Linked DNA regions of Homo sapiens: region 2 is linked to region 1. Evidence: fine-mapped expression QTL. A gene starts in region 1. The other region holds a variant in brackets. All regions are shown on one strand. Distances are from middle to middle. Region 1 holds the start of STX2 (syntaxin 2). Region 2 overlaps STX2 (syntaxin 2).

The links. PIP is the estimated chance that this variant, and not a neighbour inherited with it, causes the effect. A credible set is the group of variants that fine-mapping cannot tell apart.
Region 2: its variant is the best candidate, but not a certain one, in a credible set for the expression of STX2 in blood mononuclear cells (TOPMed, PIP 0.52).

Annotation. Positions count from the first base shown.
Region 1 is chr12:130,837,446-130,841,838 of GRCh38, reverse strand. STX2 (syntaxin 2) reads left to right here and starts at 2,589. Exons shown (of 11, transcript NM_194356.4): 1 at 2,589-2,769. The coding sequence starts at 2,740. RefSeq lists silencers at 2,386-2,895, 2,966-3,025.
Region 2 is chr12:130,810,040-130,814,432 of GRCh38, reverse strand. STX2 (syntaxin 2) reads left to right here. Exons shown (of 11, transcript NM_194356.4): 4 at 1,402-1,476. Among named protein-coding and RNA genes, the nearest start is that of STX2, 27 kb to the left of the region's middle. RefSeq lists an enhancer at 325-564 and a silencer at 2,567-2,750. The variant C/T (reference allele first, on the strand shown) is at 2,347.

The sequences.
Region 1 (4,393 bases):
ACTTCAGCCTTAACCTCCTGGGCTCAAGCAATCCTCCTGCCTCAGCCTCCTGAGTAGTCTACAGGCACATGCCACCATGCCCAGCCACCCCCAAAGCGGCCATTTCAGAGGCCTACCCTCAGGGATGCTTTCTCTTTCTCAGGGATGTTCCTTGCTGAGAAAAAGAATTCAGCAATATTTCTCCCATTTGCTTTTGAAAGAAGAGAAATACGGCTCTGTTCCGCCTGGCTCACCGGCAGTCAGAGTTTAAGGTTATCTCTCTTGTTCCCTGAACATTGCTGTTATCCTGTTCTTTTTTCTAGGTGCCCAGATTTCATATTGTTCAAACACACATGCTCTACAAACAATTTGTGCAGTTAACAAAATCATCACAGGGTCCTGAGGCGACATACATCCTCCTCAGCTTACGAAGATGATGGGATTAAGAGATTAAAGTAAAGACAGGCCTAGGAAATCACAAGGGTATTGACTGGGGAAGTGATAAGTGTCCATGAAATCTTCACAATTTATGTTCAGAGATTACAGTAAAGACAGGCATAAGAAATTATAAAAGTATTAATTTGGGGAACTAATAAATGTCCATGAAATCTTCATAATTTATGTTCTTCTTCCATGGCTTCAGCCGGTCCCTCCATTCAGGGTCCCTGAATTCCCACAACGATTATTCACAACTTCATTTTTTTTCTCTGGCAGGATAAGGAAAGTTTTGAGGTTGGGCATGGTGGGCTCATGTCTGTGGTCCCTGTGCTTTTGGAGGCTGAGGTGGGAGGATTACTTGAGCCCAGGAGTTCAAGGCGGCAGTGGACTATGACCATGCCACTGCACTCCAGTCTGGGAGACAGAATAAGACTCTGTCTCAAACAAACAAACAAACAAACAAAAAGTTTTGGTTGCCAATTCAACACCATCCAGCTGCTGCCAATATTATCATATGTTTTTGAAAAATCCACTGGGAGAGAGGGAGAAACGAGGGAGGGCCCAGTATTTACCAGAGAGGGAGAATTAAAATGGTGGTGGCAGAGGCAAGAAGGCCGAAAGAAAAGCACTTGCCTGTTGCGGGGTCCAGGAGGCATTCTGGTGGGGAAGTTCAGGATATGGAGAGAAAAAACATATCTTTTTTTTTTTTTTGGAGACGGAGTCTCGCTTTACTGTCCAGGCTGGAGTGCAGTGGTGCGATCTTGGCTCACTGCAAGCTCCACCTCCCGGGTTCAAGCAATTCTCATGCATCAGCCTCCTGAGTAGCTGGGATTACAGGTGCCCGCCACCACACTCACCTGGACAACTGGCTGTCAAGACCTTCCATCGGGTAACAGAACCACATCACACCTAGAACCAAGTCCAAAACGTCCTGTTTTTTAATGTGTAGCCTGTTGCTCTCAAGCAGATTTCTTAGCGCTGCCTTCTGGTCAGACCAAAGCCACCTCCTCCAGGAGGCAGTAAAGACTTTAACCTTGTTTAAAAACAAATCTGGCCTTGCCTTCTCCTCCTGGAAGGCAATCTTTGTTTGCCTGGGAGTCTTCGGCTAGCCAGAGAGTAACAGTGTGATTTATGGTGGGGGCTTAGGGTTACATGGATATCACTTAACCAAGAGGCTGAGATCAAGCATGAAAGCAATCAAACAATCAATCAATCATGCACATGCAATGGAGCCCAGTAAACGTTCTGCACACTGTGGCTCAAGTGAGCTTCCCTGGCTGGCAGTACTTCGTGTGTAAGGCCACACATCAGTGCAGGGCAAGTAATGAGGCCTGACTACACAGGGAGAGGACCACGGGAGGACCTTGAAGCTGCACGCCGTAATCCCCAGACTCCCCCTCTGCCCTTCTTCCTTGGCTGATGTTAATCCGTATCATTTTCCTGCTAAGAAACCATAGTTGTGAGTACAGTAGTTTTTAGTGTATTCTGTGATTCCTTCTAGCAAATTATGGAACTTGAAGGTGGTTTTGGAAACCGCCAGAATTTGCCGTTGGTGTCAGAGGTGATAATGGTCTTGGGGACTGTTCCCCCAACCTGGGTAGTTCACCTAAGCTCCTGCACCTTCATGACGACCTCTCTGCCAGTTCCGTGCCCATGCCCTTACTTTCTTTTCTCATCTATCATTTATTTGTCTGTGTCTGTATTGCCTGTTTCTCCTGCCAGAATGGTATCCCAGGGCTGGGCCTGCGGACGCTCTTCCCGTTACCGCCCCCTGCCGTGTTATGCTCCGTAAGCATCATGTGTGGTACACGATCTCTTCTCCTTCATTCACACCCGAGGCTGCGCGTGGACCCTTAAAGAGAAGGTTCGGCATATGTATTACCCAAAGCTGCACCCAGCACATTCCGGGAGCTTTGCTCTTTTGTCACTATTCGTTGAATGCTCTATATTTTGATAAATAAAACAATGAGTGTGAAAGCATAAAAGCAGATCAAGGGACAAACAGCACGTGTAGCGGAACTGCCAGCCTGGGGCTCGGCCGGACCCCGCCCCTCCCCGCCTAGGCCCCGCCCCCAGGCCCCGCCCCTCCGGGCTCCCGCTGGAAAGCGCTGCCGCCGTGTGGGTGGGTGCGGGGCGCGGCGCGGGCCGGGCATGCGCAGAGCGCGCGGGGCGCGGTTGCCGTGGCAGCGCCGGCTCCAGGGAGGGCTGCTGGCGCCGGGCCGGGACCGCGGGGCCTGAGGCGGAGACCGGAGAGCCCGAGGCCCGGCCGGAGGCAGCTCGGGACAGGCTTGAGCGGCGGGGCGCGCTGCCCGGCCGGCGGGGATGCGGGACCGGCTGCCAGACCTGACGGCGGTGAGCGGCAGCCGCGGGTAGCGGTTCAGGCCCGGCCGGGGCGGCGTCTGGAGGGCGGGCGGGGGCTCGGGGCGTCTTGGGCGGGGCTCCGGGAGGGTCCCCAGGGCGGGGATCTCCGGCGTTCTGGGGCGGGGGCTGCGGGCAGGGTCTCAGGGAGTCCTGAGCGGGGACTGCTGGTGGGGTCCCCAGGGCGGGGGTCCCGGGAGTCCTAGGGTGGGGGCTCCGGGCGGGGTCCCCAGGGCTTCCTGGGCGGAGTCCTCAGGGCGGGTTGGGGCAGGAGGAGGGAGCGGGGAAGGTCCCGGCCTCGACCCCCTCTTCGAGCGTGGCTCCCTGTCCGTCACTCCGCTTGGCGGATTGTATCTGGCGCTTACCCAGCCGGAGCCCACTGGCCTAACTGTGGTCCGCCCCACGGGGTCCCCGCAGCTGGCGTCAGCCCCGGGGAGCAGGCCGGGTCCTCTTGGTCGCTGCTTTATCCCTGGGGCTTCACAAAGGACTGTGCACCAAGCGGGAGGCAACAGATGGGTGTGAAATGTGGGCACCTTAGAGTGCTGGGTGCTTGGGGTGGGGCGAGCGCGAACAGCAGCTTGTGTCTGATCTCCCAGTAGTTTGCTTTGGAAACTGGGACCGTGTGTTGACTCTGAACGCACCTTACGCGCCCAGCAGCCGGGCACACAGCAAGTTACTGTTTACTTTAGCAAGGGAAAAGCAGGTCACTAAAAATTTTGGAAGGATTTCGATGCATTCTACACGTGTAAAGGTGACAGGACTGTGCATGGTGCAGTGACAGCGGAATGATAGTGATGGTCGTGCACTTTCCAAGCTTGTCTAACCCAGGACGGCTTAGGCCAGCAGAAGTAGTTATGACTTTTTCCCTTTACAATACAGGTACTAATTCATGCTACGTGTGTGCACAGATAGAGCCTCTGGTCTCTAAATTGTTGGCAGCCTCAGAACAGGGGTGCTAAGGCCCACAGCCCTACGACACCCACTGCATGTAATGAATTATTCTCTCTCCTCTGCTGCTAGAATGGAGCTGTTATGTACCCCCGAGTGGGAGAATAGAGAAAAGAGCCACTTAAATCATTATCTGTGTTCTGTGGTTCAGATGAGGAGCTCTGGTTGAGAAAGGCAATGATTTCATCCTTAGGATCATGGAAATTATGCTTTATATTCATTCCAAGGAAGTTTCTTCACGGTGATTTTTCCTTTTTTATTAATGGACAAATATTCCCTGTGTTCCGCAGATCAATATCATCTTAAACACAGCAAATTATAGTTGTGTTGTCTTGCCCGATGGATTATCTTTCAGTGCCGTGTAGTAGGAGCTCAGGTATTTATTTAATGAAGAAAAGCTGTGGCTCACTCCTGTAATCCCAGCAGTCTGGGAGATCAGGGTGGGGGCATCACTTGAGCCCAGGTATTGGAGACCAGCTTGGGCAACACAGGGAGACACTGTTTCTCGAAAAAAATTAAAAAATTAGCAGGAGGCCAGTCGCAGTGGCTCATGCCTGTAATCCCAGCACTTTGGGAGGCCGAGTTGGGTGGACCACTTGAGGTCAGGAGTTGGAGACTAGCCTGGCCAACATGGCAAAACCCCGTTTCTACTAAAATAGCCGGATGTCAT
Region 2 (4,393 bases), 27 kb after region 1:
GGAATGGAAGCCACCAGTCTCTCCACTCCCAGGTCAGATGTCCCCTCCTGTGGGACAGCTGCAGCAGACGCTTCTCCTCCTCGCTGCCCATGGCATTTTGTGAACCCTGTCTCGTCCGTTGTTAGTCTCTGCGTGGCATTGGCGCTTCCTGGGTTTGTCTTGTCTGTTTTTACCGAGTTGTTAGGTCCCTGGCGGTCTTGTTAGCCTCCTTAGATGACACGGGCCTGCACACAGAAAGTACTCAGTAGGTGTCACTGGTGCGTGACCTGTCACCTCTGGAGATCACTCAGTCTCTGATCTGGCTCTGAAACCCTGGACGAGCCAGGCTGCGTCTGATGACTGTAGCTGAGCATGGAAAGAAGACTTAGCACACGCTTGTGTGCAGTGGGTACTCGGGGCACCCTGCGTATGCTCAGCTGAGGGGGTGTCAGGAAGAGAGTGGGCATCTCTGAAAGCTTTCATTCTTGGCCAAGTTGTCTACGGCAGAAACGTTTGCCTTTTCCCCGGCTGATGCGTGTGAGATTGAGTGAGAGAGGCAAGTGCAGGACTCTCTAAAACGACAACAGGACTCCAGAGACGGGGCGGGGGCCTTCCTGTTTCAGCAACTTCTGCCCAAAGGAGAGAGAAACCCCCTTCCCTTCTGGTCACTTCAGCCACTGGACTGGCAAATGTGAGTGTGCGGCATGGAGCAGACATCCTGCCACCCTCCCTGGGCTCTGGGGCAGCTAGGCATGAAAGCAGAGGCTGCTATGACGCCCTGGGTGGCCTTAGGTCTCAGCACTGCCCTGGAGTGTCAGCTCCTGCTCTGCTGGCCTCCCTCCGTGTTAGGAGGCCGGCCCCTGCCTCCATCGCCCCCTGCTTGCAGCCCTGAGTGTCTGAGAAGCCAGGCCAGGGCGACCGGCCCAGCAGCCCTGAAGTGGTGGCTGTGATTATTCGGGCGTTTTGGGGAGACAGCTGACAGCACAAGAGAAAAGCACACACACGGGAGACTTTGTTGAGATCATCGTTACGTCTCCGTTTTCCTTTCCCAGGTCTAGGTGTTAGCAGTGGATTTAGGCAGCAGTTTCATTCATGGGTATAGAGCAGCAAGTCTCAAACTTGTGTCACCTGGAGGGTTTGCTAACTCAGATTGCTGGGCCACTGTCCCCACCTCAGTTTCTGAGTAGGTCCAGGGTGGGCCCCAGGGATTTGTGTTTCTACTAAGCTGCCACCTGATATTTATGAAAGCTGCTGTCTAGGGACCCACCTTGAGAACCACTGGTATAAGCGGTAGTTTTTCTTACAGAAAAAAAGTGAATATTTACTAAGGATACTGTTTCACTTAAATTTATTGGATATCATTTATGTTGGATATTATAGCTCAGATGCTGTATTTTATTTTTTAATTTTAAATTTTTATAGAAATAAAAGAAGAGCTTGAAGATCTGAACAAAGAAATCAAGAAAACTGCGAATAAAATTCGAGCCAAGTTAAAGGGTAAGTTTGAAGTTTTATGTTTAATTATTGATGTTGGGAGTATGGGTATTTGTTATTTTTTTCTTTATTGGTTTTTGTTCTTTTACATTTTTAAAAATTAAAATAGTGACTGCTTTAAAATAAATTATTTGTATGTAATTCAGAGTACTAATTAATATTCAAAAAGGTTATGTGTTTGCTTATAAACTGTTATACTGTTACATTTTTGATGACATTTCAGGCTAAGTTGCAGATGTTTGGGAAGGTGAGTTGCCAGGCTCTTCTTGAATGGACCCTTTAATTGCTCATTTCTTTCAAACTTTCTGTAGAATTTATTCGATGATGTTTGGCATTCCACTTTAGCAGCAGTAGTTTTTTGGGAGGCTTATAGCTTTGTCATGTAAAACAGGGGACTTAAACAGAGGTTGCTTTTTCTCGATTTGGTAGAAAACATGTTGTATTTGATTTTTGCAGAATGGCATCAAGATCAAAAACAATCTCTGTGCAGATGATAAAATACTTTTATTACGGCAGGTTTCAGATGTGTGCAGAAGCAGAGAGAGGCGACCACAAGCCGACCCCCCAGCTCCACAGTTCTCCATGAGCTCCCACCCGCACCCGCTCCCAGACTATTCTGAAGCCCATCCCAGGCATCTGAGATTTCATCAGTGTGTATTTCAAAAACAGAAGCTTCCCCAAAAGCACAACCACAATTATATCTAAACCCAAATTCATTATAATTACTTAATAGTACAGAATATCCAGGCAGAATTTCCCCAGTGGTCTTACGATTTTTTTTTTTTAAACAGTTTGCTTGAATTGAGTCCCAAATAAGGACCAAACCCTGGCTTTTAAAAATGAGATTCTCCCTTCATGATTTTTCTCTCTGCA[C/T]TTTTTCCTTTGGTTGGTGAAACCAGGTCATTTGTCCTACAGAATCTGCCATGCTGCAGATTTTGCTGATTTTACCTCTGCAGCACATTTAATAGGCTCTGCCGTCCTCTGAATTTGCTGTAGGTTGGTAGTTAAATTCTCCAAGCTTTATCTGATTCAGGTGTTTTTTGTGGGTTTTTAAAATGTAAAGATGCAGCATCTGATTACAGATTTTATGTCCTCATGGTTACGTTAAGATGTTAATGGTGGCCTGGCACGGTGGCTCACGCCTATAATCCCAGCACTTTGGGAGGCCGAGGCGGGTGGATCACAAGGTCAGGAGATCGAGACTTATCCTGGCTAACACGGTGAAACCCCGTCTCTACTAAAAATACAAAAAATTAGCTGGGCGCAGTGGCGGGTGCCTGTAGTCCCAGCTACTCAGGAGGCTGAGGCAGGAGAATGGCGTGAACCCAGGAGGCAGAGCTTGCAGTGAGCCGAGATCACGCCACTGCACTCCAGCCTGGGCGACAGAGCAAGATTCCATCTCAAAAAAAAAAAAAAAAAAAAAGATGTTAATGGTGACATTAACATTTTTTCTTGGCTCTAAGTAAGTTCAGTAAAATTTTAAATAAGATATAACATTCTTTTCTATTCTGTGATATTGTCAAAAATGGATGATTATTTCCAAGATCCATAATTCATTAGAAGTTGCAAGCAGTAATATCCTGATTTTTTTTTTTTTTTTTTGAGACAGAGTCTCACTCTGTCACCCAGGTTGAAGTGCAGTGGCACAATCTCGGCTCACTGCAACCTCCACCTCCTGGACTCAAGCGACTCTCCTGCCTCAGCCTCCTGAGTAGCTGGGACTACAGGCGCCCGCCACCACGCCTGGCTAATTTTTGTATTTTTAGTAGAGATGGGGTTTCGCCATGTTGGCCAGGCTGGTCTCAAACTCCTGACCTCAAATGATCCGCCAGTCTCAGCCTCCCAAAGTGCTGGGATTACAAGCATGAATATCCTGATTTTATTCTTCCTTCTTTGTTTAGTTGCTGGAATAGTTAAAAAGAAACCTTTCCCCTTCAACTCTTGAATTGGGTAGTTTGGAGAATTTAACTATGAGCCCACAGTAAATACAGAGGACAGCAGAGCTTACTGAATGTGTTGCAGGGTGAAATCAGCAAAATGTGCAGTGTGGCAGGTTCTGTAGGACGAATGACCTGGCTTCTCCAACCAAGGGAGCCAAAGCACATTCTGGGTCACAGATCATGGAGGACAGAGAGGATCAGCGTTGGACTCTCTCTCTCTCTGGTATAATTTTCATAGGTCAGTTCCCTGGGGTCCTCCAGAGATGACCAGGGAGAGTCTCTGTTGCTGCTTGTCGTCCATCATCGTGAACACATGGATTTAAACACATCTGATGTTTTCATTGCTGCATTATCCTTAATGCTCAGATGGTCTCTTTGGCTAGTAGGGTGGACTCTTGAGTCCTTTTGGTAGGCCCCTCATTGTCTGTGACAGCCTTTCCACTTTTTGCTGTGACAAAAGTCCCCATGCTCATTTCACCCCTTTCCTCCCTGGGCCTGGCATCAGCCATTTCCCCAGGAAGCCCTGCTCCTGTGTCTGAAGAATGTGATCTAGACACCGAGGTCAGCATGCTGGGGAATGTATTGCTATACATGACGATGACCTGACCATTCTTTCCTAGGCTTTTTCAGTGGACTGGGCTAAGATTTTTTTAAAAGATAAAATGAATCATGATTTGTTACTGAGAATCCAAATTAAATTAAGAATAAAGGAAGGACTAAAAATTTTTTTGAAAGGATTTTTACTTAATAAGGGCAATATTACATCTTTATTTCCTTTCAACTATGCCCCAAATTCTGGTTCTCACTGACACATAATTATTCACTTGCTATTCATAGTACACACACAACAGACTCAAAATAATTATGCCAGCATCTACTGTCAAGAGTATGATTACTTAAAGGTTTATTTTTTATTTTTTGTGTCATTCTTTTTGTCTATAGGTATATCCCACTGGGCTAGATAATCAAATTACTTTTTG